4 separate regions of the Homo sapiens genome follow, and all the other regions are linked to region 3. The links come from fine-mapping of genetic effects on gene expression. A gene starts in region 3. Each other region holds a variant in brackets. All regions are shown on one strand. Distances are between the middles of the regions.

Region 1 (8,107 bases), 25 kb before region 3:
GCTTCTGTGCCTCAGTTTCCTCATCTGTAAAATGGAGGTAATAACGTACTCACCTTGTAGGGTTGTTGTGAGAATGAAATCCACATAAATCCAGTTACAACACTACCTGGCACACCTGCTGCTTAGGAGGGATTAGCTACTGATACCATGTGCAACGGCTTGTGCTAAGCTCTTGAGATGGTGTGACATTAAGTCCTGGTTCTGGTCCTCCAAGAATCCACAGTAGAGCATGGGAGACTGCCTTCAGAGGCCACCTCCTTCACAGTAAACGCACTGTGGGCATACAGAGGAGGGAGGGATGGCAACTGGAAGGGGACTCCTGCAAAAGACACTTTTGCTTGATTCTGGAAAGAGTGGGCTTCTGCAGGTGGGAGGGTGAAGGGGGTGTTCCAACAGAGGCAGCGGTGGGGCGAAGGTGGGCAGCAAGCATGAAAGCATTCCCATGTGGGGAGTGAGAAAGCTGTGGTCCTGGAGGAGGAGGACACGCTTTAAAAGACCATCACAGATCCAGGCGAGGCTGGGGTGATGAACACATCAACGTGAAAGGAGTACTGAAGTCCTAGGGTGACCACAGAGAAGAGGGAAAGCAAGGGGAGCCAGCCAAAGGCACAGGCTGAGGAGCCTCTACCCTTAACTTTGAGTACGCTGCCCGCTCAGGTAACTGAAGGCAGCAACCTGTAGATACAAAGCAGGATACTGAGAAGAAGTGGTAAGAGCAGGGTCGGGAGAAGACTCACCCGCTTGTTGACAGTGTGCAAGAAACAGTTTCACTCCTTAAGATGGAAATATCTCCCTGGTCTCCCTGTCCCCAGGCAGTGACCCATAGGCTCACGTAGGCAATTCACCTAATGTACCACGTGCATTTAAAACTCACACATACCTGGTCACAACCTTTTGTGCATGATAAGATGGTGTGAGAGATCTTTTTCTATTTTTTTTTACTTCTGAGCAGTTTAAGGATTTTTTTTTTCAAAATCTGTTTCTATTTTGGCAAAACAAATACAGTTTTAGCTACCAATCTAAAAACACTATCAGAGAAAAGCGAGGCAAGTTTAGAAAAAAGGAGAAAGCATTCTCCTATAATAATGGAAACAATGATCACGGTGTTCCTAAATTTTTTGTTGTCTCTTTATGTTAAAAAAATTTCTTATACAGCTTGGCTCAGACACGGTTAAAGAACTAAAGGGTTAATAGGACAGAATTAGACAGTATAAACAAAATTCCTGCCTTTGCTAAATTGCAAGGAAGACACTTAGATCCTGAAGAAATTAAATGTGGAAAAACAGAACTATAAGAAAATCGACTTGAACATCAAACCATTGAAGGGAGTAAGACTTTTAAAGCTCAGACCTGATAGAAATGTTGAAAAAGAATAGACTTGACTACAACACATTTTAAAAATTGACAAGGTAAACAATGGAAAAGCAGTTGCCCCAAATGAAACATAAAAGGTTCACAGAGTGCCATGAACACTCCAGAACCCAGATAAGCAAATGGACAAAGGACAAGAACTAAAAGTGTGGAAACACAACTGGCTGGCAAACATGAGGAGAACATTCAACCCACGAGGTAACCAGAGGAGAAAATGAAAACGGATCTACATGTTCAGGAAAGGAACAGTTAAGTGTAGTAATACATTTACTCTATTAAATATAATCATCATTAAAATTCATTTGTATGAAGACCAAAATATAACATTGAAAAATCCTATGCTATAACATTAGGTGAATAAAAAATATGTATATTTTGTATATGTACATGCATATGTACATAGTATGATAACCATCTAAAACTCATCCATGGAAAAATGGCCAAGAAGATATCCACTAAAATGTTAGTTAGCATTGGTTATTTTTGAGACAGTGAAGCCATGGATTAGTAGTTTTTGTTCAAAACTTTACTGCATTTTCAAGTTGATCTTTAGTGATTATATATATGGAACACATATATATGTGTAATTTTTATAATATAAAATATAGTCTACACTCTTAAAGATAATGCTGTATATATTATATATGTTGATTATATTTGAAAATCCAGTATTACTTGTTATCAATGAATAATAAAATAACTTAAGATCTAGCCCTTACATCTTTTTAAATAATACAAGCCTAAAATAGAAATGAATAATCCAAACAGCAAAACTAAGAAACCCCAAAATAAGATATTTCACGGGATACTGTAAATTTAGTAAATACTTCTTAGAAATACGCAAATTAATTGGAAGTGCCCTTAGACAAATTGTTTTCTTTTTTAATTCTTGAAATGTTAAATGGTAGGCAAAATAGAAAAAGGTATCTGACAAGATAAAAAATAAACCTCAAAAAGGCTGCAGAAGCCATGGGATACCACAACTTTGATACAAATTTTATACAAATATGTCCCTGAGCAAAAGGATCATGAGGCCAATGAGCCTTGTATTCACAGACCCATTCCAGGGCTGCTCAATCTGCAGCTTTACAAAAATGTAAATAATACACTTCATTCCTTAAACCAGACTGACTGGCTGTTATCAACATTTGGAATGCCCATCATCTTTTTCCAAAAACATTACTATTCTGAACTCCCCAGTATGTGAAAGGTTTGGGAAATGTGCCACTGTAAATCCTGTGTCAGATGAGTTAGGCCCTCCACAGTCTTGCTTGGCCCTTCCCCATCTCAGAGGTTTCCCACCACCACACCAATCTGTACTAACTGGCGAAAGGGGCTACATGCCCTCCCCTTCCTTTGCCCCAGGCCCCCTGGCATACAATTGATGGAGTCAGCTGACTCAGTTGGGAGAAAACACTGGAGCAGAAGCTTCTGGAATGTTCTGTCTTATCCAGCCTAAACAATAGCATCATAAAGCCACAAGTGACAGAAATCAAATCCAGTGAATGACCGCAAAAGGCACATGTAGAGACTAACAGGCCCCATAGAAGGTTTGGACAGCTCCCTAAAAAGCCATGTTTTTCTACAAATCCCAGATCTCACGACCCACTCAGCCCTGTAAGGAGCTCTTAGCAGCCTGCACTGCACATATGCATATTCCTAACAAAGCCATTCATTTTCAGGGCCTGATTCCCCTTTCTTGAACCTATATTTGGGTTTCCTGAACTAAGTCCTATGGTTCCGGCTATTAGGTGGGTGCAAAGTAACTGCGTTTTTTGTCATTACTTTTAAATACTTTTTAATAATTGTGTCCTATAGTGTTAGTTTTTCCATGTGTCCTATGAATTTAAACCACAGTTGAAGATGTTTAATTTACATATTCCACAAATATTCATTAAATAGTAGACAGTCAGAGAC[C/G]AAAGGACTTGGTCACTGCACCCCATGGAGCTTCCAGTACATTGGGAAGAAAGACAGATACCTAAGCCAATTATTAAAATGCAATTAGTCACTGTCATAATGGATGCACATATTTATTAGTCTGTTCTCATGCTGCTAATAAGGACATACCTGAGACTGAGTCATTTATAAAGGAAAGAGGTTTAATTGACTCACAGCTCAGCATGGCTGGGGAGGCCTCAGGAAACTTACAGTCATGGCAGAAGGGGACACAAACACGTCCTTTTTCACGTGGCAGCAGCAAGGAGAAGTGCCCAGCAAAAGGGTTTTTGTTTGTCTGTTGTTGTTGTTGTTGTTGTTGTTTGAGACAAAGTCTTGCTCGGTCGCCCAGGCTGGCATTCGGTGGCGTGATCTCAGCTCACTGCAACCTCTGCCTCCGGGGTTCAAGTGATTCTCCTGCCTTAGCCGGTGTGTGCCACCACACCCAGCTAATTTTTTTTTCTTTTTGTATTTTTAGTAGAGACAGGGTTTCATTATGTTGGCCACATTGGTCTTAAACTCCTGACCTCAAGTGATCTGCCTACCTTGACTTCCCAAAGCACTGGGAATATAGGCATCAGCCACCACACCCAACCAAAAGGGTTTTTTAAAAAGTCCCTTATAAAACCATCAGATCTCGTGAGAACTAACTCAGTATCAAGAGAACAGCATGAGGGTAGCTGCCCCCGTGATTAAATTACCCCCCTGGGTCCCTCCCATGACATGTGGGGATTATGGAAACTACAATTCAAGCTGAGATTTGGCTGGTGGGGACACAACCAAACCACATCAACATACCACTTTACAAGTGCTATAAAGTGGTATACTTGACACTTTTTTTTTTTTTTTTGAGATGGGGGTCTTACCCTGTTACCCAGGCTGGAGTGCAGTGGTGCAATCTCAGCTCACTGCAACCTCCACCTCCCAGGTTCAAGCGATGCTCCCACCTCAGCCTCCCACGTAGCTGGGGCCACAGGCACATGCCACCACGCCTGGCTAATTTTTTGTATTTTTGTTAAAGACGGAGTTTTGCTATGTTGCCCAGCCTAGTCTCGAACTCCTAAGCTCAAGTGATCTGCCCACCTCAACCCCCCAAAATGCTGGGATTATAGGTGTGAGCCACCGTGCCCAGTCTACTTGACATTTTAAATAAGATGTAACAGGGAGAGTATCCGAAGTCAGGCAAGTCTCAGGAGGAGACAGCATTTGCACTAAGTAAGATGTGAAGGTCAAGAGAGGTAGCGCTGAGGAATTCATTCTTGACTGAAGCAACAGCATGAATACTGGCAAGGCAGTGTGTCTGGGGAGCTTATAAATCATGGGAGTGGCCAAGCATGGTGGCTCACGCCTGTAGTCCCAGCACTTTGGGAGGCCAAGGCGGGTGGATCACTTGAGACCAGGAGTTCGAGACCAGCCTGGTCAACATGGTGAAACCTTGTCTCTACTAAAAATACAAAAAATTAGCCAGGCGTGGTGGCCGTGCCTGTAATCCCAGCTACGGGGGAGGCTGAGGCAGAAGAATCACTTGAACCTGGGAGACAAAGGTTGCAGTGAGCCAAGATCGCGCCACTGCACTCCAGCCTGGGAGACAGAATGAGACTCTGTCTCAAAAACAAACAAACAAACAAACAAACAAACAAAAAATCATGGGAGTATGGTTGGAATTATGCTGTCTAATAGGGTAGCCACTAGACACATGTGGCTATTGCACATTCAAAATGTGGCTAGTCTGAAATGAAATGTTCTATAAGTGTAAAATGCACACAGGATTTCAAAGACAGTATAAAAAAAGATTGTAAAGTATCTCATTAATAATTCTAAATATTGCTAACATGTTGGAATGACACTATTTTGGATAGTTTGCAGAGTCTCCATCACATCTTAAGGAATTTCATTTAAAAATAACAACAACAACAAACAATGGGACACTTAGATACTGATCCTGGTTCAACTTCTAATTATTGCCAGTGGGAGAGCTTAAAATACAAACTTTCTCTACCCAGTACACAGTGTTTCATCAGGCATAGAACACATACAAAATGGCTTTTTAAAATGAGGACCCAAGTATTTTCTTAGATTTCTTCATATAGCAACAGGGTTCATCTTTATAATTCTACATATTGACTTGTACAGACTAAAACAATTAATCTACGAAGACCAATAATATAGTTTTGGTGTCCCCTCAAAATCTCATGTTGAAATATGATCCCCAATGTTGTAGGTGGGGCCTGGTAGGTGTTTGGGTCATGGGAAGGATTCCTCATGGCTTAGTGCTGTCCTCGAGATAGTGAGTTCTCACGAGATCTGGCTGTTGTAAAGTGTGGCACCTCTCCCCTCTCTTGCTCCTGCTCTGGCCATGTGACATGCCTGCTCCCCCTCTCTTACTTCCACCATGATTATAAGTTTCCTGAGGCCTCCCCAGAAGCCAAGCAGATGCCAGCATCATGCTTCCTGTAGAACCTGTGGAACTATAGGCCAATTAAACCTCTTTTTTAAGTAAATTACCCAGTCTCAGGTCTCTCCCTCTTTCTTTTCTTTCTTCTCTCTCTTTCTCTCTCTCTCCCCTCCCTCCCTCCCTCCCTCCCTGTCTTTCTTTCTTTCTTCTTTTTTTTTGAGACAGGGCCTTGCTCTGTCACCCAGGCTGGAGTATAGTGGCATGTTCTCGGCTCACTGCAACCTCTGCCTCCCAGGTTCAAGCAATTCTCCTGCCTTAGCCTCCTGACTAGCTGGGAATACAGGTGGGCACCACCATGCCAGGCTAATCTTTGTATGTTTAGTAGAGGTGGGGTTTTGCTGTGTTAGCCAGACTGGTCCCAAACTCCTGACCTCAAGTGATCCACCCACCTTGGCCTCCCAAAGTGCTAGGATTACAGGTATGAGCCACCATGCCCAGGAAGGTTATTTCTTTATAGCAATGTAAGAACAACCTAATTTAGAAAATTGGTACTGAGAGTCAAATATTGCTATAAAGATAGCTGGAAAATGTGGAAGCAGCTTTGAAACTGGGTAATGGGCAGAGAAGGGAAGAGTTTGGAGGGCTCAGAAGAAGACAAGAAGATGAGGGAAAGTTTGCAATGTCTTAAAGACTGATTAAATGATCGTGACCAAATTGCTGACAGTGACATGGACAGTGAAGTTCAGGCTGAAAAGGTCTCAGATGGAAATGAGGAACTTATTGGGACTGGAGCAAAGTTCACATGTGTTATGCCTTAGCAAAGATCTTGGCTGCATTGTGTTCACACCCCAGGGATCTGTGGAAGTTTGAACTTGAGAGTGATGATTTAGGATATCTGGCAGAGATTTCTAGGCAGCAAAGCATTCAAGATGTCGCCTGGCTGCTTCTAACAGCCTACACTCAGATGTGGGAGTAAAAAAATGACTTAAAGTTGGACCTTATTTTTAAAAGGGAAGCAGAACATAGAGGTTTGGAAAATTTGCAACCTGGCCATGTGGCAGAGAAAGAAAAGCATTTCCGCAGTCTGGGCAACATAGGGAGACTCTGTCTCAAAAAAAAAAAAAGTTAAAAATTAGCCAGGCATGGTGGCACTTGCCTGTAGTCCTAGATACTTGGGAGGCTGAGGCAGGGGGAACCCTTGAGCCCAGGAGGTCAAGGCTGCAGTGAGCCATGATCATGCCACCGCACTCTAGCCTGGCAACAGAGACCCTGTCTCAAAAACAAAACAAAACAAAATATTTTTGTGGGGAGATAAATTCAAGCAGGCTGTAGAGCAACCATTGCTAAAACGATTTGCATAACTAAAAAGAAGCCAAGTGCTGAGAGTCAAGACAATGGGTAAAAGGCCTTGAAAACATTTCAGAGATCTCTGAGACAGCCCCTTCCATCACAGGCCCTGAGACCTAAGAGGACTGAGTGGTTTCAGGGACCAGGCCAGGGGCACTACTTCCCTGTGCTGTTTCCCACATCCCAGCCACTCCAGCTCCAGACATGGCTCAAAGGGGCTCAGGTACAGTTCAGGCCACTCCTCTGGAGGGTGCAAGCCATAAGCTTTGGCAGCTTCCATGTGATGTTAAGCCTGCAGGAACACAGAGTGCAAGAGTGAAGGAAGCTTGGCATCCTCCACCTAGATTTCAGATGATGTATGAGAAAGCCTAAGTGCCCCAGCAGAAGCCTGCTCCAAGGGCAGAGCCCTCAAGAGAAACTCTACTAGGGCAGTGAGGAGGGGAAATGCGGAGCTGAAGGCTCCACAAAGAGTCCCCACTGAGGCACTGCCTAGTGGAGCTGTGGGAAGAAGGCCACCGTCCTTGAGACACCAGAATGGTAGAGCCACCATCAGCTTGCAATCTCAGCATAAAAAAGCTACTGAGGCGGAGCTGCCTAAGGCCTTGGGAGCCCACCCCTTGCACCAGTGTGCTCTGGATGTGAGACACGGAGTCAAAGAAGATGATTTTGGAGCTTTATGATTTAATAACTGCCCTGTTGGGTTTCAGACTTGCTTGGGGCCTGTAGCCCCTTTCTTATGGCCAATTTCTCCCTTCTCAAATGGGAATGTTTGCCCAATGCTGATACACCCATTGTATCTTGAAAGGAAATAACTTGTTTGATTTTACAGGCTTATAGGTAGAAGGAATTCATTTCTAGATGAGACCTGGGACTTAGGACTTTTGAGTTAATGCTGGAATGAGTTAAGACTTTGGGGGACTATTGAGAAGGGATGATTATATTTTAACATGTGAGAAGGACATGAAATTTGGAGGCCAGGGGTGGAATGATATAGTTTGGATGTCCCCTCCAAATCTCATGTTGAACTGTAATCTTCAGTGTTGGAGGTAGGGCCAGGTG
Region 2 (8,107 bases), 20 kb after region 3:
CACGATCACCTGTGCTGTGCCTTTTAACCTCTGTTGTTGTCTACCTCTGGATCCCTTAGATCCAGTTTTCTTTCCTAGGGCTTTGACCCAAAGCTTGGAATTGAGTTTGGAACAAAAATGTGTCTCAGGGGAGTTGCATGGACTCCCTATCATAAGCTGCATGCTAAGGTGAAACCGTAGAACTGAGTCCTCCTCCAATAAGGGAGAGGAAAGGATGTCTTGTGACACACCCAGATGACTGATAGCTATAGTTATGCTTGCTAAGATTTGGGTGCATGATGCTTGGCTTTTGTTAGCTCCCTTGGTCTTATTTTCCCAAAGGAAATGTCCAAGTGATGGGCATCCTATTCATTCCCATCACCTGGCAGGGTTTTCAGGATAATTCCTCAGAATTAGAATGTTGATCCAGATTTTCACATTACCCATCCCTCTTGTTCTTTCTGAGCTGCAGCTGGAGACTGCCGGTTGGTTCACAGGAACAAGTAGGATTAGTCTTAAAATGTAGGTAAAAACTTAAAAACAACTAGTGAGTTTAGAATTTAATGACAAATATATGATAGGTTTTGAAACACGATTTCTCACTCGCCAGTCCTCATTTTTGTTAAAAACAAACAAACAAACAAATCATGACAGGACTGAGTTGTTTGCAAAATAGACTTTACATTTTTATACTTGGCCTGATTATTTGCATAAAGTACAGCAAGAATTATTATTTCCGCAAAGGCCTTTCGGATTGGCTTCGATGGAAGTTTGTTCCACAAGGAATCAGATAAGACCTTTTAAAGCTGAGCCCAGGCATGGGTTTATCCTCAAATACCTGTGAGTTTGGTGATCCTCTCCTCTTAAGGTTCCAAGATAAACTTGGAGTTCCTGGACCTGTTAAAAGTGGCATTCTTTACTGACCATAGGAACCCTGTGCAGGGACTGTGTAAACAAGGGTATGAGGCCAGTTTCCCCACTGGGATTTTATTGGCGCTGCAAGTCAAGATTGACTCCTTAAAGGAAAGCATACCCTTCCAGTCAAAGACTTGGTAAAGTAACCAGTTTTTCCAATTGTGTCCCGTTGCAAGAGAGAAGTGGATTCCTATTGCACTGATGTAAACAACTATATTGCCATAAGTTATGAATACTCACAGATAGTTTTCAAATTTTAGAGGAACCAGGCAGAGAGAAACAAACATGCTTCAAATTTTGGTTACAGAAGTATACCTTGCTTAATTATTAAAGGCCATAAATAGTTCAAAATAAGTTTCCTTGACTCTGAGAAACAAAACAAGGATGAGCAATATTCCAAGCAAAAGTCAAAAAGATTGCTTTAGTTTTCTGAGTTCAGTCCATTTAGTTAATTCTTGCTTTGGTTGATATTCGTGAACATTTCAGCTCTTCATGAGTCCTGTACATTTTCCTTTATTCCAATGTCACAATCTCCAAAGTTATCAGAAGCCTGTATTTGAGAGCACCTGTTACAGTTCTACGGCTTATTCTAAATCATCTCTTGAAAAGGATTAAAACAAGACAACAATTGTCTCTGAATAGCAAAAATGTCCAGGGTAGTTACACTTGGAAACACAATTGACAAAGGAGTTTGGTTTTCTCTGTGGTTTACAATAAGTTAACATAACAACCTTAATTATGATTGGTAGCATAACTTAGACATTAGAATTTTAGAAAGTCCCATACAGTTTTGGAACATGTATTAATATTACTCACAAAAATATAACCTAAACAAGATTGAACATCATTATGACAATTTCATTTACCTAGACATGTCAAATCATCTCGTTTGCCTCTCTTTTCTGGATGTTTCAGGGGCCCTCTGGACTATCTAAAAGCCAGGTATCAGAAAAGACAATTATGAAACTTAAGTTTGATTTTTGGAAGGCTGTTAAATATGTTTAAAACATTTGATATTATGAAATAGTGTTCCAGATTACTATAAACAATTTTGCCAAAATGATGACTCAGAAATTTTAAAGCAGCAAAAACCTTTAATAACCCTTTTGAATTTAGTTAACATGGTCACAGAGAACCTCTTCTGCAAGATTAATTTCCATAATTCTTGCACCAGTTGTTTGAACCTTCAGCTTTTCCTATCTAACTCAAAACAATCCTTTAACCCTAGGCAAAAATTTACATTTCCATGCTTCCTTATAACCTTTTACTAAAAAACCACATTTTACCGTTCTTACACACCTTGCATGTAAATCTATTTCCAGTAGTCTCAATTACATGTTGTAATGGTAACTCCTAGAATTTTTAACGTTAATTTAAAACCTGGTAAGTTGTTCTAATTGTGTGCTAACTGCAGCCAAGTTTTGCCTTCTTAATTAAGGGTGTGGTTAGTTCCATGTGTCCCCAGGCCTTACCAGCTGTGAAGCCAGCAAGTCATATTTCTCAAAACCCAAAAAGCAGTTTGTAACCTTAAAACATTTAGCAAACCTTGCATCTGACCTGCATTATGCAGCCCACCTATTTACATTTTAATGACATCTGTTTTTACCAATAATCTTTAAGGTTGCTTTTATTTCTCAAAGATTAAAGTCGCGTGAACTGAAAGGCATCACAGCTTTTATCTTCCCTTAAAAAAATATTAGATCTGAGCACTTGTCTTTCTTTAGGCCAAATTAATTAGAGCTCTTTTTACAGACATCACACACACACACGCACACACACACACACACATATGTAACTGACAAGCATATAACACACACATATAACAGCCAGGCAGGAGAAAACCCAGTCCCCGGGTGGGGTTCTTTAAGAGACAGGGCTAGGAAAACATCCAGATACCAACCACAGCAGGCTCATCCCCTAAGGCAGGATTGCTGAACAAAGCCCTATCAAGCAGTTACAGGCAGTGCCCCCAATATGTAAAACCAGATGAAGGCTTCATTTCAGAACCAAAACTTTGCAGATAATACAAACAGAGATAGTTGGTTGGGGGGGGCTTGGTTTAGTAAAGCATCTTCTAAAAGGAAAAGAACTTTAAAAGTTACTACTGATGGGGTGAAGAAGAGGAAAGAAAAAAAGTTTAAAAAATGCCTGGGGAAGAACCTCTTATTCTTATTCAAGTGGTTCCTTCACCAGGGAGACAAGTTTAATTGCTGCGGGTCAGAGATGGCCTTTCAGGCCCAGGGTGTGTGGCAGAAAACACCAGCCAGCTGCCCGCGGCACCTTGGGCCATGTGTCTCAGCCCAGGCAGGGAGGGGAGGGTGGAGGGGAGCCGCTGCTCACTGGTCCATCCCGAAAAAGGAAAGAAAAGGCCATGAAAAGGCTGGGGAGCAATGCGGGGGTGTGGGCATGATTTCCCCCACTCTCAGAAGTCTGAGGATGAAAAGGCTTAGGAGCAACAGTGAGAGGTTTTGAGTCATTTCACTCACCGCTTCTTGAGCCCCATGTTGGGGGTCAAAAATGTTGCAGGACTTTTCCTTTGTGAAGCTAAAGATGGCATTCTTTGTCCCATGGCCACAAAAATTCAGGCTTGCAGACAATTTGAATGGTAAGACAGAATTGTA[C/T]TGGGTGAAAAGGAAGAAAAGGAAGAAACAGGGACTCTTGCTAGGCCAGAGTCCCTGCTAGAATGCTTCCTGCTTTACGGTTGGAATCCTAGGTTCCACACAGGAAGTGAGGCGGCCAGGCTCCTCCCCGCTGCAAACAGCGTGAACTTCCCGAGACTCCACCCCAGGGCGCAGGTTGGTTGGAGTTTTTCCGGGGACCCCCTCCCACCTGGCTGTCTCACCAGCACTTTGGCAGGCCAAGTTGAGAGGATCACTTAAAGCCAGGAATTCAAGACCTGATCGGGCAATATAGTGACACCTTTATCTCTATGGAAGGAAAAAAAATGTTAGCCGGCCATGGCGGTGTGTTCCTGTAGTTCTAGGTACTCAAGACACCCAGGTGGGAAGAGAAGTTGAGCCCAGGAGTTTGAGGCTGCAGTGATGCAGCCAGCTAGGATTGTGCCACTGCATTCTAGCCTGGGCAATAGAGCAAGACTCTGTCTCTCAAAAAAAATTTTTCTTTGCCTGATTTAAATAGTAAAATTAAAGTAAGATAGTAGGGACAGGGTGGGGACCAGCAGCCATCCTCCCTCCTGAAAAATAAACATAAAAATAAATTGGCCGGTCGCGGTGGCTCACACCTGTAATCCCAGCACTCTGGGAGGCCGAGGCGGGCAGATCACGAGGTCAGGAGATAGAGACCATCATGGCTAACACGGTGAAAACCCGTCCCTACTAAAAAATACAAAAAATTAGCCGGGCGTGGTGGCGGGCTTCTGTAGTCCCAGGTACTCGGGAGACTGAGGCAGGAGAATGGCGTGACCCCGGGAGGCGGAGCTTGCAGTGAGCCGAGATCGCACCGCTGCACTCCAGCCTGGACGATAGAGCGAGACTCCGTCTCAAAAAATAAATAAATAAATAAAATAGAAATAAGTTTCATTTTGGGAAATATATTTTAAAATATAATTCTAAGCTACCTGTCCTCACTAAAATTAAGGTGGGGATTAGAAGGAGTTAGGAAGAGAAGCCTCCTATGCCAGGGACAGCAGTAGGCACTCTCCATATTTTACCTCCTTTACAACTGTGGGAGGTAGGAATTATTATCCCCATTTTACATTTGAAAAAAAACCTGGAAAAATCTCAGATAATAATTAACTTGTCCAAGATCATGAAGCTAGGAACTAAGCACAGATAGGGATTCCCAGTTAAGGGCTCAAGAGAGATCAACCTGTTAAGAGAAGAGAAGGTGTTTTTCATTCTCATATTACCAACTTAAGACCATATGCTGCTGTTTCACAAAGGAGACTCACAAATTCATTGACTAGTTCTAGATCGATTCCCCATTTCAGAAATCCTCTGCATTGTAACGCTAATATTTACTGGGAGCTTAACTACATGCTAGGCATGTTCTAAGCAGTTTATATGTGATAATCAATTTAATCCTCTCACAATCTGATGAGGTAAGTGCTATTATTATCATCATTTTAGCAGATGGGACACCAAGGCACAGAGAAGTTAGATAACTTTCCCAAGGTTGCATAGCTAGTAAACAGTAGAGCCAGGATTCGTTCCTGGCAGACTGGTGCCAATGTTATGCTCTTACCTGTCTTTTATAACTGTGGCACCAGAGCAAAGTATAACAACTGGTTTGAATTTTTTACATATCAAAAGTGGCTTGGAGAGATTAAAGAACATTTTTTGTGTTTTTTTTTAGTTGTCCCCACCCAACAGAAACCTGTCAAACTGGTTATTCAGGTTTAAGTCACTTTATAGTTCTCACAAGAATGTTAAAGGAAAATAATGAAAACAAACAGATGTTAAATGATTCACTCCAGTATAAGCTCAATTATCTAGGTTCCTTTGCTTTTGTAGCAATCAAGATGTCTTTGGACTTTGACCAAGTCTGAAACTTTTTCATATTGTATTTATTTCAAATAATGAGATGATCAAAGGTGATCTGTGAAAAACACAGGATAGAAACTGCAGCACCCTGATAGAACCCACATCTGGGTTGTTGATGAAAAGAGTCAAACTCTGTAGAATATTTGAAGAGATTTATTCTGAGCCAAATATGAGTGACCGTGGCCTATAACCCAGCCCTCAGGAGATCCTGAGAACATGTGCCCAAGGTGGTTGGGGTGCAGCTTAGAACATTTTAGGGAGACATTTACACATTAGAGAGACATGAGACTTCAATCAAATACATTTAAGAAATACATTGGTTTGGTCCAGAAAGGTAAGACAACTGAAAGTGGTGGGGTAGGGTGGTGGGGGGTGGGGTGGGGGTCAGGGGCTTCTTATAGGTGGGTTTAAAAATTTTCTGGTTGACAATTGGTTGAATTTAAAGACCTGGGATCAGCAGAAAGGAAATGTCTGGGTTAAGACAAAGGATTGTGGAGACTAAAGTTCTTATTTGCAGAGGAAGCCTTCAGGTAGTAGGCTTCAGAGAGAATAGGTTGTAAAATATGTTTCTTTTCTTTCTTTTTTTTTTTTTTTTGAGATAGAGTCTCACTGTGTCACCCAGGCTGGAGTGCAGTGGCATGATCTCGGCTCACTGCAAGCTCCGTCTCCCAGGTTCATGCCATTCTCCTGCCTCAGCCTCCTGAGTAGCTGGGACTACAGGCGCCTGTCACCACGCCCGGCTAATTTTTTGTATTTTTAGTAGAGACGAGGTTTCACCGTGTTAGGCAGGATGGTCTCGATCTCCTGACCTCGTGATCCACCCGCCCCGGCCTCCCAAAGTGCTGGGCTTACAGGTGTGAGCCACCGCGCCTGGCCATAAAATGTTTCTTATCAGATTTAAAGTCTGTGTTGATGTTAATGCTGGAAAGGTATAATGAGGTATGCCCAACCCCACTTCCCATCATGCCTCAGGTTTAATTTTAAAAGTGCCCTGGCTGAGAAAGTCCATTCAGATGGTTGAGGGGCCTTAGAGTTTTTTTTTTTTTGTTTGTTTGTTTGTTTTTTTTTTGGTTTACAAGGTAAAAGTTGGCTTGAGATAGTATGAAAAACAGTGAAGGTATATAGGACTCAGAGTTAATTTTAGTCCTTTTGATGTCTGTCTGTCCCAATCCAGCTCCATGTATCATTAGTATCACAGAGCATAAAGTACAGTCATTCTGAGGACAAACCAAGGAGTTTGGACCCTGTGTTAGTCCATTCTCACGTTGCTATAAAGAAATAACTGAGACTGGGTAATTTCTAAAGAAAAGAGGTTTAATGGCTCATGGTTCCACAGGCTGCACAGGAAGCATGATGCTGGCATCTGCTTAGCTTCTGGGGAGGCCTCAGGAAACTCACAGTCATGACAGAAGGTGAAGGGGGAGCAGGCACATCACATGGCCAGAGCAGGAGCAAGAGAGAGGAAGGAGAGAAGTGATACACACTTTTAAACAACTAGATCTCACAAGAACTCACTCACTATAACAAGAACTGCACCAAGGGGCTGGGGCTAAATCATTCCTGAGAAATCCACCCCCGTGATCCAATCACCTCCCATCAGGCCCCACCTCCAACACAGGGGATTACAATTCAACATGAGATTTGGGTGGGGACATTTGTCCAAACTATATCAGACCCATAGTTGAGTTTGCAGTGTAGCCCTGTAATGATATAGAGAGGAGAAGGATTGGGAAATAAGGGAAGATAGGTGAGCAGGCCAGACCCGGGAGGCTTTGAATACCAGCTTGAAGAATCTGAATTTATTCTGTGTCTAATGGGGAGCCATGATCCATAAGGAAGGCTATGGAATTATCAGGTCTCTTCCTGCCAAGACTCTAAATATTCCTTTGTATCACGGTTGACCCAGGTCAGGCTGAATGTTCCCAGGTTACTTTGGGTTAGCCTGGCGTTTCCAAGTCTGGTTCACAGTCTTCAGGAGCTAGGAACGGGGTTTTCTCTACCTCCGCTTCCCTGTTGAATTTTGATCTAGCTCAGGGAAACTGTTTGTCCCTTTCTAAAAATATGAGTGTGTAGTTTCCAAGACAAATGGGCAACAACTGCTCTGTGGGCTGGCTGAAGGATCCTGCCAGGGTGCTGGTGAGTTTGTTTCCTCATACTACATTTATCTTTAGCACAGGAACTAGCAGTAGGCAGAATTCCTAGCTCAGCCCAGTGATCATCAAGAAGTAAGCAGGTAAAGGTAACTATGAGTCCAACAAGGAGCGGACTTAAAGGGGGCAATCAAATGAAACTATTGCACCTGCTTAGGTTCAGATGCCCAAGATAATCTAGGAGAGATGTGATGGGAAGGAGAATAGGAGGGTGCTTAGTCATGTTAGGTACAGAGACAACATTTAAAAAAACTTTATTGTTTATTTACCACAATTTTTAATTGTGGTAAAACATACATAACACAAAATTTACTATCTTAATCATTTTTAAGTGTACAGTAGAGTGGCATTAAGTACAATCATATTGTTGTGCTGCCATCACCACTACCCATCTCCAGAAGTCTTTCCATCTTGCAAAACTGTATTCATTAAGCAATAACTCCCATTCTTCCCTCTGCTCAGCCCCAGGCAACCACCATTTGACTACTCTAAGTACCTCATATAGGTGGAATAATACAGTATTTGCCTTTTTGTTATTGTCTCATTTCACTTAACATAATG
Region 3 (8,107 bases):
GAAACAATTACAGGCCTTGCCCAATACGAGGCAGTCACCACTGAGGCCAAAAATGAAACAAAATTGTCTTGGTTCCTTCCACGATATTCACTGGCCAAAATTAAAAGTCTCTCTTCAGTTACCTCTGGTCACTGCAGGGTTCAAGGACAATTATCATTTGAGACAACTTTTTGGATAGGAATTCTCTTACTAAGCTTCCCACACCTACTCATTTGAATTTCATCCCTTTTCCCTCTTCCCTTTTTGACATAGACAAGTCGGGGCATAGACAATCTTCAAATGAAAAAACAAAGAACTGGAAATATCAGAGTAGATTATATTATAACTACATTAGAATCAAGTTATGAATGAATTCTCCCATAGTAATACTAGTGGCAATAAAGATGACTGCCACATATTGATTACCTATTCTGTGCCTGATACTATGCTAAGTGCTTTATACTTGGTCCTACAATAATACACATGCAGAGACAAATCCAGGTTTTGTGGGTCCTGAAGCTTATACAATTTGAAGGGTCCTTCTTAAGAAAAAAGAAAATTTGGGATATAGAATGAGGTACAGGGCTTCGCAAGGGTCTGTGCAAGTGAGAGACCCAAAGCTTAACTTTGCGAGTTTCATGGTAAATGCATCACTGTGCCCAAGTTAGCTAACAGCTCATATCCCCAGTTTTACAAGCAATGAAATTGAGGACCAAGTAAGTTATTTGACGTAAGTCATAAAGCTTATACTGGCAAGGATAGGATTTGAACATATGGAATCTGACTCCAAATCTCACGTATTTTCTTTGTGTGGCTTCTAATAAAAATAAAGTTGCTATCACCTATTAAGCACTAACTATATCCCAGAAAGATCACACCTTAAGGTTATAAGAATTATTTGACAAAGCAGATGTGATCGTTAGTCCTTATTATCCCTATTTACAGATGGGGAAAACATGAATCAAGTAAGATTAAACAGCCCACGGTCACCGAGCTGGGACATAGTGGAAGCTAGGTTTCATGCCCAGGAGTGTAACATCCTCAATCTTTCCCACTGTCCCATGCTACCTACCACCCTACAGGTAATCCAGGAAAAAGCAGAATAGCGATGTGTGACTTACCTCTAATGACAACAGTATTTCCACACCTGCCCACTGAAACTAGCCCTGTCCTTTAGTTTCATACAATACACCGTGCAGTCCTCCTTAGCTGGGATTGAGCAGCTCTGAAAGTCCACTTCCCTGTACTATTACTTATCAGAACAGAGTCCATTCCTCATGGAGAAAAACACTTGGAAATATCAACACAAACTCAGGCCCCAGCCAAGTTGCCTTACAGCCACCCCCTCACCCAGAGAAATGGAGACACACAGAGAATCTAAGGGCTGGCTATATGGGAACCACGGGGAAGATCACTCATCCTATAGGGCTCCTTGAAACAGCCTTTCAAGGCCATATAAGAAAACTCACATATTTACTATAATTGGATTGCTTTACTCTAGTCACCCAAAGCAAGAGTTTACATCCTCAAACACAGCTCACCATGGATTTGGACATGGACAGGAGTGGAGAAAGGATTCAGTTTCTTTTTTCCTTGAACATGATTGCTCAAAGGAAACTGACCCTCGAGACGCTCAGACAGTGGGCCTTGTCTTCCCTTGGCAATGTGAACTTTAAAAATTACATTATGCTTTGCCATGGTGCTTTTTGAAAAACTGCCTTTAACTGCCAGATTTCAGGTACTCACTTAATTACTTTTGGAAACTCAGTTAAAGGAAGATATCCATTGCCACCTGGAATAAAATAGCTTTACTGACTGGAGAGTGCAGTGATTCAAAGTAGACTAGGCCTGGGCTTTTTTATCTGGCCGCAGCAAGTGCAGACCAGTGGGAGAAATGAAGCGTGCAGTTATGGATGCTAACAAGAAAGGCTGCTGCTCCAGTGATTATTTTTCTTTTTTAAGGAAAAAATGATCCCAGTAATTCTCTTTTGTTCCTCTTTTGACACAGCTTGGTGGATGTGGGGGAAAGGGCAGATGAAATGACCAGTGAAATCAAAAGATGAAGTCTTCTTAAAGGACTGGCTCTCCAGCCCAATCATCTAGAGGAAGAGACAAGTTCAGATTCTTGTAGGGTATCTAAATGCATCTGTGCCTGAAAATTATGGCCGTTTGAGAAAAACAAGAATTCATGGTGAGACAAAGCAACACAGACTGTTGGTACAAGATACAAAGCCACTAAGTCAGCGTTCAGCAAAGACTGATGGATGAATTGTCACCCAGCCTAAAGGACTGGCCCAGCTACCAACTGCCCCTGCCCAGCCCAAGAGGGCAAGAACACAATAGACCGCACACCCACGTCTCATCCCCAGGCGCACACCACTTCAAAGGCTACAGCAAGCAGACAACATAACCTGCCTCTTCTGCGGTGTCTTTCATTCAGTTCTGTTTCTTCATGAAGTGGGAAGGAAACAAGTTTGGGCCCACCTGAGATTGGGGTGTAGACGGAAGGAGTGGGGAGAGATGCAAACGACAGAACACAACCGAAGGCCTTTTTAAAAGTCAGGATCCATAGCCTTACTTATCACTGTAAAGGGAACAGAGTCGGCTCCATCCTTCCTCATCCTTCTTTAACCCTCGCCTACCAAGCCCTGGAAGACAGGGACGCAAGAAGAGCTCTAGCGCGGAGGGTCTGCCTGAGTGCTGGTCTTTCCCATACAAGATGTAGCAGCAGGGATGGGAGGGTGAGCTGGACGACTCCACAACACACACACAGCCCGCCCCGCCTCACCTTCTCGATACTCTGGTCTACAGCCTTCTGGAAGACCCGGGCCACCAGCAGCGTGACGCTGGTCACCAGCAGGAGCAGGGACAACGTCCCCGCCGTGTAGAAGCAGCATCGGCCCATTCTGTGCGCCGCTCACGGGCCGGGCCGGGCCGCACCCGCCAGGGATCCAACTGCAAGGAGGGAGGAGCCGCCGCAGAGGCGTCGAAGACCCGGGACCCTTCGGCGCCACGCCCACGCCCTCCCGGCGCACGGTTCGTGCGCGCAGCTCTGGGCTCCGCGGCCTGGCGAGCGCGGCCCCGGGTGCACCGGGCGGATGGGGCCGCGGAGGGACGGGCCCGGACTCGGTTTCGGTTTCCTTCGCCGGGCAGCCGTGGCGCCCGCCTAGCGCAGCTCGGGAGAGTGCAGGGAGCGCGCAGGGACGTGACGTTCGCGGGCCGGGCTCGCCGCAACCCCGCGAGGCAACCGCCGGCGACTGCGCGGGGAGGCGGGCGGGGGCGGAGGCCGCAGTCATGTGCCCTGCGGCGGCGGCAGTGATTCGGCCCGCGCCCTCCCCGGCCGGTCCCCGGTGGCCCTGAGTGGCTGCGGCGCCTGAGCCAGGCCCGGCCTGGCCGCTCCCAGCGCCCTGCACCGCAGGCCCAGCGCTCGCCCCACCGAAATTGCCGAACCTGGTTCACACACTCATTTACTCATTCCGCAGATAGGTCTGAGGGCCTCCCATGGGCCACGCGCTGGGGATTCAAGGTGGCTGGGACATTCCCCTGCTCTAGAGGCGCTCGCAAGTTAGCGGGGACACCGTTACCGCAATTACAACACAATGTAGCAAGTGCTTCTACCAGGTGCCTGCTGAGATCATGCCAGCAAGCATGTTCTGCCTGGATGACCTAGGGCCCCACATTGAACTGGGGCCTGGGGGATGCATAAGTTTGTCACGTAAGGGGCATGTGCAAGAATGGAAGATGTGCAAAAAAGGGAGGAGGAGGCATTTCACGGAGAAGGAAACGGTGAGCAAAGGCATTGGGGGTGAAAGAGCAAAACCTGTAGGAAGCAAGAAGGAAGTTCCTTTTGACTGTAGGCTCAGGTGTTCAGGGGGTGGAGTCGGAGGTGTTGAGGCCCCAAGAGGTCAGACTTTGAAGGGCTCTTGGTATCCTGTTAAAGATGTGGAAGTTGGGAAGGAGCTTAAAGCAGGCATCGCTGGTGTTCTTGCCTGCTTTGCTCACTGTGGTGTCCCAGACACCCAGGACCAAGACCTGCACACAGCCAGGACTCAAGAAGTGTTCGTTAAATGAGTGTTTCTTCTACGCCAGCCCTTTACTAGTTTCTTTGCACAGTTCTACTCATTTAATACCCTTGGCAGTCCTATGAATAGGAGGTTGTGTTTGTCCCAGTCCTCCAGAAACAGTCCCAGATGGGGGTACTATGCAAGAGAGTTTTGAGGGAAAACAGGGAGCTGGACCTGGGATGCAGGTGTGATCCTTGTGAAGGAAAGAGGCAAGCAAGGAAGGAAGGTTGGGTGGAAGGAAGCATTTGATATATATACAGTCCATGTATAAAAAGTTCAGCAAGGCCATTGGGGTGGGGAATCCTTTAGCCAAATGGGCTTGTCCCAGAAGTCTGGCATCTCCCAGAAAGAGGCCCGCCTTAGTATCCCTGCTGTGCTCAGTCATGAGCTGGGAGCAGCCTTAGGAAGCTGGCCTTTGCAGCAACCTAGGGATAAATATCAGGGTATGGATTTCAGCAGAGCTCAGCAGTTGAGGCGGAGCCATTGGTCAGTTATGCTATCTACACTGCAAGATCCAAGAAGTACATTTTCTTGGCAACTATAGTGTATTATCCTCATTTTACACTCAAGAACACTGGGGCTCTGAGTTAAGTAACCTAACAAGCTCAACTGGTTGCTGAGTGGTGGATCCTGCTTGAACCAGGATGTAGGGCTGGCTGTTGGCTTCCAAAACCCTCACTTTTTCTACTCTGCGCATTGCTGCATCCCGATCTGTCACTAATGAGAATCTGAGGACAGCAAATCAGTTAGGAGGCTTTGTTGAGGACTTGGTGAGATAGCATGATGGTTTAAAAATGGTGGCAAATTATTTGTTACTCCTTTCGTTGAGAGGTGGGGTCTATACTTTCTCGCTTTGAATTTGGGCAGGTTTTAGCAATTTGTTAAACCAATAGAATACAGTGGAAATGACCATATCCTGGAACTTCTGAAGCTAGATCATAAATGCCTTGCAACTTCTGCTGGGGCCTTTGCAAATTCTTGCTCTTGGAGCCTCAAGTCACCCCTAAGTTCAGCTACCCGGAGACTGCTGCAGAGAACATGGGAAAGACTGTGGGGAGAAGCCCTGAGTCTGTAGGAAGAGAAATGTCCCACCAGTCCCCAGCTGTCCCTAGCCTTTTGAGTCACAGGCCCTAGACATTACAGAGCAGAGGTGAGTGGTCCCTGCTGAGCCCTGCTCAAAATGCAAAATAAAGGATTGTTGTTGTTTAAGCCACTGAGTGTTGGTGTGGTAGGTTACTCAGTAGATAACTGGAGCAGATGGTAAGGGCAGAACTGAGGCTGGGACATTTTGTAGCTACCAAAGCTCTTCAAGCAGCAGCCCCAGAGGACCAGTCCTGTGTTCAAATAGAACCTGGTGGGGTCCTGAATGATTCAACTGTCCCCAGCCTGATGGGTGGGTGGTCTCCAGTCCTCAGGTGTCCACAATCGGCAGCCTTTCTCTTCCCCTAATCCTGCCTCTTCTCTGCTGTTAAGTTTCAGTTAGCTACATTAACTCTGCTCTGTGCCCCAGTTTGCTTAAGGAGCAATGCTAGCCCACTAACCCTCACATGTCCCCTACCTAGGCATTGGTTGAAGTCCTCCTGTCATCTATATGTCCTCTCCTTCCCTAACTAGAAAAAAAAATTTGGTAACTTGCCTGCCTAGGTACTTTGGCACTCAGAAGTTCATGCTCACACTGAACTTCCACCCCCTACTCTCTGACTGCTACAATCAGATTTTCTGTTTGCGGGCTCCATTCTGGAGGGCAAACTCCATAGGTACCCACTCCTCCCATCCCTGGACCACCAATCCCAGGGTACTCTTCCTTTTCATTGTTCATTGAGGTCCCTTCTTCTCTCTTGTCTGGGCCACCAGGACAGTAACAGACTGTGGGGATGGAGAGATGGAGACAAATTTGATAAATGTATCTTAGTGTGGGAGAGTTTCTAAACAAGGGTTTACAGCTCAAGTTGCCCTCAGTTTACCTGCTCTCTGAGGATCTCACTCTGTTTCCACTATGTCAGGCGGTTAGTAAGCCACTTCCCCTTTAAAACTCTGGACAAGCCGAATGAAAATCTCTTTCTTGGTTCTTCTTAACACAGCTGACCAGGCTAGCATTTTTAAATGTGTTAACATAAGACAGAACAAAAAGGACCTAATTACAGAAAATATAAACAGCTTTTAAGAAAATAATGTATGTTCCCAAAATAGCAGTCTGTGATCCCACAGTAATCTCTGTCTTATCACCGAGGCTGGCATAACTTTTTAGCAGCTGGCCTGGCTGTCTTTCTGTTCAGTTCCATCTTCTCTACCCACAGCTATGTTCAGAAGCTTTTGACACAAAGCCCCAAAATCCAGATTTAAGTTTCTCAATGCCCTTTGGGACTTCCTCCTCATTTCTGATCTATAGGACATGTCTGCACCGCTAATTGGCATTGTTAGTTTATTGCCACAGGATCATCTCACCCTATGAGAGACTTTGCCCTCTCATCCAGGGAGTAGCCCCTGCTTGCCAGCCACTAATAACCCTGAACACACTCTGGAGGGGCAGACAGCTTGGGAAGGGGTTACTGCTCCCAGAGTTTAGATGAGGAGGCTGATGCCAGGGCAGGGAGACAATCAGGACTCTTCCTGGTGACTTCTCTGCTATGGTTTGGATTTGTGTTCCCTCCAAATCTCATGTTGAAATTTGATCCCCAGTGTTGGAGGTGGGGCCTAATGGGAGGTGTTTGGGTCCTGAGGAGAGATTGTTCATGAATAGATTAATGCCTCCCTCAGGCATGAGTGAGTTGTCAGAGAGCGGGTTGTTGAAAAGAGCTGGCACCTCCTCCTTCTCTCTCTAGCTTCCTCTCTGCCCATGTGCCTCACACAGGTGTGCTCCCTTTCTGCCTTCCCAGGAGTGGAAGCAGCCTGAGGCCCTCATCCAATGCAGATGTCTGTGCCGTGCGTCTTGTCCAGCCTGCAGAACCATGAGCCAAATAAACCTCTTTTCACTACCCAATCTCAGGTATTGTTATAGCAACACAAACAGACAAGGGCGGAAAATGAGGAGACTGATGCTGTGGCAAGGAGATACGGTGATCTCTCTATACCTAAAATCAGAAGACTTTATCTGAGAAGAACAAGTACACTTAATGAATGATTGCTGGTGCCTGTTGAAATTATGCAATCATTCGGGACTTAGAAAAAGAGCTTTCTTCACAGACTCTAAGGGCTATCGAGGGGAAGCAAGAGGGCTCTTTGGGCTCTACCTTAAATTTAGAATGTTGATACTATACTCAAATGAGTTTAATGATGTAGTCATTGTATACTTTTATGTTCAAAGTGTTAATGTGTTAAATATAAACATTTAAAATACACCACAGGCCGGGCCAGGTGGCTCATGCCTGTAATCCCAGCATTTTGGGAAGCCAAGGCAGGAGAATCACTTGATCCCAGGAGTTTGAATGGAAATGGCCCTAGGCCTTGCCTACTTTGGGACAGGTCAGGCTCCAAGATACTTCTAAAAGTCTTGGCTTTCTTCTTATTGAAGGTGATCTATAAAATGTACCATCACACCCTAGTGATTTGACATATGTTATTCCTAAATGTTTGTGGGGCATCCTAAATCCTGAGCAATACAGCCTCCATAAGAAAAAATTACTCTCTCCTCCCTCCTCCCCTACCCATCATTCCAAAGTTCTTACATTACAGAACTGCTTTATGCAGATAGGCTTACATATCCCAGAGGAGAGCTCATATACCATTTATATTATATCACATGCACCTGTGCCAGGCCACAGGGACTCTCTGTGAAGTTACCCATGTCCCTGTCTACCGCCTCCTCCGATCAAGAAGACCTCATGGCTTCCTCATTATCATCTTTGCACCCCCAACTAGGGGAATCTTTTCCAGTTTGTTTTGGTTTGGTTTGGTTTTTATTTTGTTTGGGGTTATGGGAAAATGAGAATTCCCCTCTTCAAATTCTTATTTTCCTTTTTGTTCCCCTAATAATGCAGACTTATTGAAACACGGAACTAGGAGGAGATATCCTATTCACCTTTTTCTCTTCCCTTTCCTGAAAACACAAGCGTAGTGTTGTCTAA
Region 4 (8,107 bases), 180 kb after region 3:
AGTCTGCAAAAACCATAGCATTATTGGGCTTGGGGTTTTGAATACCTGGAAAGCCTTCCCGAGAAGAACAGGCACAAATAAGCTCAACTGTGAAGACTACCACAAATAACTAACTTCAATGCCCAGACACCAAAGTACATCTACAAGCATCAACACCATCCAGGAAAACATGACCTCACTAAATGAACTAAGTAAGGTACCAGGGACCAATTATGAAAAAACAGAGATATATGACTTTTCAGACAGATAATTCAAAATATCTGTTTTGAGGAAATTCAAGGAAATTAAAGACAACTCAGAGAAAGAATTCAGAATTCTATCAGATAAATTTAACAAAGAGATTAAAATAATTAGAAAGAATCAAGCAGAAATATTAGAATTGAAAAATGCAATTGCTGTATTGAAGAATGCATCAGATTCTCTTAATATCAGAAATGATCAAGCAGAAGAAAGAATTAGTGAGAAGACAGGGTATTTGAAAATATACAGTCAGAGGAAACAAAAGAAAAAAGAAAAGAAAACAATGAAGCACACCTAAAGCTCTAGAAAATAGCCTCAAAAGGGCAAATCTAAGTTACTGGCCTTAAAAGGGAGTTAGAGAAGAAGATAGGGGTAGAAAGTTTATTCAAAGGGAAAATATCAGAGAACTTCCCAAACCTAGAGAAAAATACCAACATTCAACTACAAGAAGGTTACAGAACATCAGCAGATTTAACTCAAAGAAGACTATCTCAAGGCAATTAATAATCAAACTCCCAAAGGCCAAGGATAAAGGATCCTGAAAGCAGCAAGAGAAAAGAAACAAATAACATACAATGGAGCTCCAATACATCTGGCAGCAGGCTTTTCAGTGGAAACCTTACAGGCCAGGAGAGAGTGGCATGACATATTTAAAGTGCTGAAAGAAAAAAACCATCTACTGTAGAATAGTATATCTGGTGAAAATATCCTTCAAACATGAAGGAAAAATAAACACTTTTCTAGAAAACAAAAGATGAGGAATTTCATCAACACCAGACCAGACCCATCCTACAAGAAATGCTAAAGGGAGTTCTTCATTCTGAAAGAGAAGGATATTAATAAGCAAGAATAAATCATCCAAAGGTACAAAACTCATTGGTAATAGTAAGCACACAGAACAATATAACACTGTAATTGTGGTGTGTAAACTTCTCTTAAGTAGAAAGGCTAAATGATAAACCAATCAAAAGTAATAATAACTTTTCAAGCCATAGATAGTACAATAAGATTCAAAGAGAAACAACTAAAAGTTAAATAGTGGGGGCACAAAGTCAAAGTGTAGAGTTTGTATTAGTTTGGTTTTCGTACATTTGTTTGTTTATGCAATCAGTGTTAAACTGTCATCACTTTTTAAGTGATGGTTTTAAGATAATGGTTTATAAGAGAGTATTGCAAGCCTCATGGTAACCTCAAAGGTAAAAAAACATACAACAGATACGCAGAAAATAAAAGCAAGAAATCAAAGCATGGTAGTGGGTTATCAGAACTTATTAACATTAGTGTCACTAGAGTTGGTATAAAACCAACTGCTAAATTTGACTGGCTTAAAAATAAAGAAATCAAAGCATACCACCAGAGAAAAATCACCTTCACTAGGAGGAATACAGGAAGGAAAAAAAGAAGGAAGTGAAGACCACAAAACAACCAGAAAACAAATAACAAAAATGGCAGGAGTAAGTCCTTAGTCATCAATAACAACATTGAACATAAATGGACTAAATTGTCTAATCAAAAGACATAGAGTGGTTGAATGGATTAAAAAACAAGACTCAATGATCTGTTGCCAACAAGAAACACACTACACCTACAAAGACACACATAGCCTGAAAATAAAGGGATGGAAAAAGATATTCCATGCCAATGGAAACCAAAAAAGAGCAGATGTAGCTATACTTATATCAGACAAAATAGATTTAAAGACAAAAACCATAAGAAGAGACAAAGAAGTCACAATATAATGATAAATGGGTCAATTCAGTAAGAGGATGTAACAATTTAAAATACCTATGGAGCCATGACTGCAGCACCCAGATATATAAAGCAAATATTATCAGAAATAAAAGAGAGATAAGCCTCAATACAACAATAGCTAGAGACATCAACACCCCACTTTCAGGACTGGATAGATCATTCAGACAGAAAATCAACAAAGAAACATAAAACCTAATCTGTACTATAGACCAAATGGAGCCAATAGATATTTACAGAACATTTCATCCAAAGGCTGAAGAATACACAGCCTTGTATACACACAGGAATAGACACAGGAATGTTCTGGGCAGAATACATTCCTCAGCACATGGATGATTCTCAAGGAGAGACTATACATTAGGTCATAAAACAAGTCTTAAAACATTCAAGAAAACCTGAAATAATATCAACCATCTTCTCTGACAACAATGGAATAAAACTACAAATCAATAACAAGGGGAATTTTGGAAACCATACAAATACACAGAAATTAAACAATATGCTCCTAAATGACCAGTGAGTCAATGAAGAAATTAAGAAGGACATTTAAAATTGTATTGAAACATATGATAATGGAAACACAACATCCCAAAACCTATGGTATACAGTGAAAGCAGTACAAAGAGGGAAATATATAGCTATTAAGTGCCTACTTCAAAAAAGAAGAAAAACTGCAAATAAACAATTTAAATGATGTATTTTAAAGAACTAGAAAAGCAAGAGCAAACTGAACCCAAAATTAGTACAAGAAAAGAAATAATAAAGATCAGAGCAGAAATAAAATGAAAAAAATACAAAAGATCAATGAAACAGAATGTTGGTTTTTTGAGAAGATAAACAAAATTGACAAACCTTTAGCAAGACTAAGAAAAAAAGAGAGAAGACCCAAATAAATAAAATCAGAGACAAAAAAAGGATACATTACAACTGATACTGCATAAATTCAAAGGATAATTTGTGGCTACTATGAGTGATTACATGCCAATGAACTGGAAACATCTAGAAGAAAAGGACAAATTCCTAGACACATTCAACTTACCAGGATTGAACCCTGAAGAAATCTAAAACCTGAACAAGTCCCAGTAAAGAAAAGCCCAGGACCTGATGGCTTCACTGCTGAATACCAAACATTTAAAGAAGTAACACCAATTATACTCAACTGTTCCAAAAACATAGAGGAAGAAGAACTTCTTCCAAACTCATTCTATGATGGCAGTTATTACCCTGATACCAAAACCAGACAAAGACACATCAAAAAAAGAAAACTACAGGTCAGTATCTCTGATGAATACTGATGCAGAAATCCTTAACAAAATACTAGCAAGCTGAATTCAGCAATACATTAAAAAGATCATATATCATGACTAAGTGGGATTTATCCCTGGGATGCAAGGATGGTTAAACATATGTAAATCAATCAATGTGATACATCATATCAACAGAATGAAAAACAAAAACCATATGATTATTTCAATTGAGGCTGAAAAAGCATTTGATAAAGTTAAACATCTTTTCAGGACAAAACTCAAAAAAAATGGGTATAGAATAGAAAATAATGAAGCACACTTACAAGATCAACATAATAAAAGTCATATATGACAGAACCACAGCTAGTATCATACTGAAGGGAGAAAAATTGAAAGCCTTTCCTGTAAGATCTGGAACATGACAAAGATACCCACTTTCACCATTGTTATTCAACATAGTACTGGAAGTCCTAGCTTGAGCAATCACATAGAGAAAGAAAGAAAGGACATCCAAATTGGAATGGAAGAAGTCAAAATATCCTTGTTTCCAGATGATATAATCTTATATTTGGAAAAACCTAAAGACTCCACCAAAAAAAATGTTAGAACTAATAAGCAAATTCAGTCAAGTTGCAGGATACAAAGTTAACATATAAAAATCAATAGCATTTCTATATGCCAACAGTGAGCAATCTGAAAAAGAAATCAAAAAAGTAATCCCATTACAAGTTCCACAAATAAAATGAAATACTAGGAATTAACCAAAGAAGTGAAAGACCTCAACAATGAAAACTATAAAATGCTGATGAAAGAAATGGAAGAGGACACTAAAAATCAGAAAGATATCCCATGTTCATTGATTAGAAAAATCAATACTGTTAAAATGTCCATACAATCCAAAGCAATCTACAGATTCAATGCAATCCCTATAAAAATACTAATGACATTCTTCACAGAAATAGAAAAAACAATCTTAAAATTCATATGGAATCACAAAAGACACAGAATGGCCAAAGCTATCCTCAACAAAAAGAATAAAACTGGGGGAATCACATTACCTGACTTCAAATTACACTACAGAGCTACAGTAACCAGAACAGCATGGTACTGGCATAAAAACAAACACATAGAACAATAGAATAGAATAGAGAACCCAGAAATGAATCCACTCACATACAGTGAATTCATTTTCAACAAAGGTGCCAAGAACATATATTAGGGAAAAGACAGTCTTTTCAATAAATGGTACTGGGAAAACTGGATATCCATATGCAGAGGAATGAAACTAGATCCCTATCTCTCACCATATTTAAAAATTAAATCAAAATGGGTTAAAGACTTATATCTAAGACCTCAAACTATGAAACTCTATGAGAAAACATTGGGGTCAACTTCTCAGGCACTGATCTGGGCAAAAATTTCTCGAGTAATACCCTACATGCACAAGCAACCAATGCAAAAATGGACAAATGGGATCACAAGTTAGAAAGCTTCTACACAACAAAGGAAACAATCAACAAAGTGAAGAGAAAACCCACAGAATGGGAAGAAATACTTGCAAACTACTCATTTGACAAGGGATTAATTACCAGAATATATAAGGAGCTCAAACAACTCTATAGGAAAAAATCTAGTAATCTGATTAAAAATAGGCAAATGATTTGAATAGACATTTCTCAAAAGAAGAAATACAAATGGCATATAGGCATATGAGAAAGTGCTCAACATCACTGATCATTAGAGAAATGCAAATCTGAACTACAATGAGATATCA[A/T]CTCACCCCAGTTAAAATGGTTTTTATCCAAAAGTTAGGCAATAACGAATGCTGGCAAGGATATGGAGAAAAAGGAACCCTTGTACACTATTGGTGGGAATGTGAATTAGTACAGCCACTATAAAGAACAGTTTGGAGGTCTCTCAAAAAACTAAAAATAGAGCTACCGTATGATCCAGCAATCCCACTGTTGGGTATATACTCCCCAAAAAGGAAATCAATATACCAAAGAGGTATCTGCACTCCCATGTTTGTTGCAGACTGTTCACAATAGCCAAGATTTGGAAGCAACCTAAGTGTCTATCCACAGATGAATGGATATAGAAAATGTGGTACTTATAAACAGTGGAGTACTGTTTGCCATAATAAAGAATGACATACTGTCATTTGCAACAACATGGATGGAACTGGAGGTCATTATGTTAAGTGAAATAAGCCAGGCACAGAAAGGCAGACATCACATGTTCTTGCTTATTTGTGGGATCTAAAAATCAAAACAATTGAACTCATGGAGATAGAGAGTAGAGGGATGGTTACCAGAGGGTGGGAAGGGTAGTGGGGGAGTGAAGGAGAAGTGGGGATGGTTAATGGGTACAAAAAAAATACAACGAATAAGACCTAGTATTTGATAGCACAACAGGGTGACTATAGTCAATAATAATTTAATTGTACATTTTCAAATAACTAAAAGAATATAATTGGATTGTTTGTAACATGAAGTATAAATGCTTGAGAGGATGGAAACCCAATTTTTCATTATGTGATTTTTTTACACATTGCATGCCTGTACCAAAATAGCTCATGTACTCCATAAATATATATACCTTTTTGTTTAATTAAAAAAAAAGAAAGAAGATAGAAAACAGTGATTCCTGGAAACCATGGATCCAACCTGGAAAGTAGTGGCAGGAGTCTTTGGAAAAGAGTTATACAAGATACCTAAGAGAAACTAATCTAGACTGAGCAAAAGGTCAGAAGACACTTGGAGTGTCCTGGGTCAAAGGAGGATATAGAAAATCTATATGATATGTTTTTTTCTAATAAGGATATGTAAAGGCAAATAGTGTAAGGAAAAAGGCAATTAGGAACCCCAGTAAAAACAAAAACCTACACAAGAAGGGAAATTTACTGATTTAACACTTATTTATTGAAGGCCAATTAAGTGTCATATACTCTGTTAGGGGATAAACATAGAAAACAAATTAAGACACTGTTTCTTCTCCTCATTAGTGCCTCTGTGCTTCGTTTGTCTATATATACAACTTCATTAGTGTATTTATCATAGGTAATGCCACTGTTTATATGACAAGCTCCCCTCCCAGACTATGAATTCCTTGTAAGTCCTACCTTATTCATTTTTGTATCCCTGTGCATACTGGGGTACATAATTTTCAACACTTAATAAAATTGTAGATTTTTTTTTCCTAAAAGTGCTCACACAATCTGATGAGGTAGAACAATGTGGTAATGAGTAAAATTAGATGTACTAAATACTGCAATAAATGTGCACAAATGGCAGTAACTGTACAGAGGAGAGCACACCTAATGTCATCTAGAGGAAAGGCTTCAGAGAAGAAAATGCATGGGCTGAGTCTTGGTGCATAATAAGAGTTTGCCAGGCAGACAAGGTAGAGAAGAGAAAATGGCCTGGGCAAAGGCATGCAGGTCTGGAATAGCGCAGTATATCTAGGGAAGAGCAAGTGGCCTGATACTACCAGAATAGGTACCAATGGAGAATGGGTAGCATATGAGGCTAAAATGTACCAGGGAGAGGTTAGAGCATGAAGAGCTTTGTATGTGGCAGTAATGAGTTTGACTTTTAGACTGTTAACTACTGGGACCAAATATGCAATTGTAAAGCCAGTTTGATTCTACGTAATGTCCACTTGAAATTTTTAGCAAATAACTTCTAGATGCTATTTAGCTATAATGTATACACACATATCTAAAAACCTACCCTCTACCATTGCTTTGTAAAGAGAAATCAGGTATCATGATAGCAGGACAGCAGGTCTATGCCAATTATTAACTATAAATGCAGACAAATGCTACTTATTATAATTTTGAGTTATTCAAGTTTCATTAAAATTTATATCATGAAACCAAGATGTTTTGAATAATTATTTAAAAAAGAAAAATAAATATGTAGACTTTTCATTAGCCCAATTTTAATACCGAAAATAGAAGGCACAGGTCAAATTAACAAATTTAACCAATAAACCCATTTGTTAGTTTTTTCTTCCAGGAAGTTGTATAACTGGCTTTACAACTACATACTGGATCTCACTGTTGTCCCCCAAATAGCATCAGGTGCTAGAAGAGAAGGCAACTCACTTCATTTAGTCTTCTCTGTAAATCTTTGACTTGATGTGAATATTCTTCCAAAACACGTTCAAAGTGTTCCTTTCCAGGAGATGGGATGATTTTTCTAGGAGAATCAAGTTCCACTTCATATTTAGGGAAAAAAGGAACCTGTGTCAAAGTCCCAGCTGAAGATGTGTTTTCAATTATTGTACCACGAATAGATGACACAAAAAATGAACTTGAAGAACCTAAATATTAAAGAATTCATTAATTAACTTTTCGTTTTTTTTGAGAAGGAGTTTCACTGTTATTGCCCAGGCTGGAGTGCAATGGCGCGATCTTGCTCACTGCAACCTCTGCCTCCCGGGTTCAAGCAATTCTCCTGCCTCAGCCTCCTGAGTAGCTGGGATTACAGGAGCGTGCCACCATGCCGGGCTAATTTTTTGTATTTTTAGTAGAAACGGGGTTTCACCATGTTAGCCATGGTGAAACCATGGTCTGGTCTCGTACTCCTGACCTCCTGACCTCAGGTGAGCTGCCCACCTCGGCCTCCCAAAGTGCTGGGATTACAGGCATGAGCCACCACGCCTGGCCCATTAATTAACTTTTTCATAAAATAATTTTGTGCACACTTTATGCTAACTGATTCCCTTATTGAACCCCGAAGAAGCTCAAGGTCTCAAGGGGAAAATACGCATGTGAAAGGATAAAGCAATTTTGGCCTTAAGCTGATGCTGTAGCAGGATGAGACTGCTGGGGGCCTTCTTGGGAGAAGGTGAATGTAATTTGC

Alleles and levels. Positions count from the first base shown, and alleles are read on the strand shown. Sizes are in standard deviations (SD) of each study's normalised expression. Not every link is listed here.
In carriers of allele T in region 4, the expression in lymphoblastoid cells of the gene that starts at base 3,165 in region 3 tends to be higher than with A alone (large effect, 2.0 SD a copy in TwinsUK).

What was found.
Region 1: its variant is fine-mapped to the expression of SCARB2 in subcutaneous fat (FUSION, PIP 0.95).
Region 2: its variant is fine-mapped to the expression of SCARB2 in unexposed skin (GTEx, PIP 0.91).
Region 4: its variant is fine-mapped to the expression of SCARB2 in lymphoblastoid cells (TwinsUK, PIP 0.95).

Annotation. Positions count from the first base shown.
Region 1 is chr4:76,185,870-76,193,976 of GRCh38, forward strand. All of the region lies in intron 2 of SCARB2 (scavenger receptor class B member 2), which reads right to left. Among named protein-coding and RNA genes, the nearest start is that of SCARB2, 24 kb to the right of the region's middle. The variant C/G (reference allele first, on the strand shown) is at 3,289.
Region 2 is chr4:76,230,923-76,239,029 of GRCh38, forward strand. It overlaps LOC105377286 (a long non-coding RNA gene), which reads right to left. Exons shown (of 3, transcript XR_938897.4): 3 at 7,784-8,107. It also overlaps a transcript of SCARB2 not described here and a transcript of FAM47E not described here. Among named protein-coding and RNA genes, the nearest start is that of FAM47E, 17 kb to the right of the region's middle. RefSeq lists an enhancer at 2,974-3,850. The variant C/T (reference allele first, on the strand shown) is at 3,516.
Region 3 is chr4:76,210,660-76,218,766 of GRCh38, forward strand. SCARB2 (scavenger receptor class B member 2) reads right to left here and starts at 3,165. Exons shown (of 12, transcript NM_005506.4): 1 at 2,768-3,165. The coding sequence starts at 2,884. It also overlaps a transcript of FAM47E not described here. RefSeq lists silencers at 2,566-2,970, 2,884-3,503.
Region 4 is chr4:76,388,922-76,397,028 of GRCh38, forward strand. CCDC158 (coiled-coil domain containing 158) reads right to left here. Exons shown (of 25, transcript NM_001394954.1): 4 at 7,348-7,565. Among named protein-coding and RNA genes, the nearest start is that of CCDC158, 28 kb to the right of the region's middle. The variant A/T (reference allele first, on the strand shown) is at 5,014.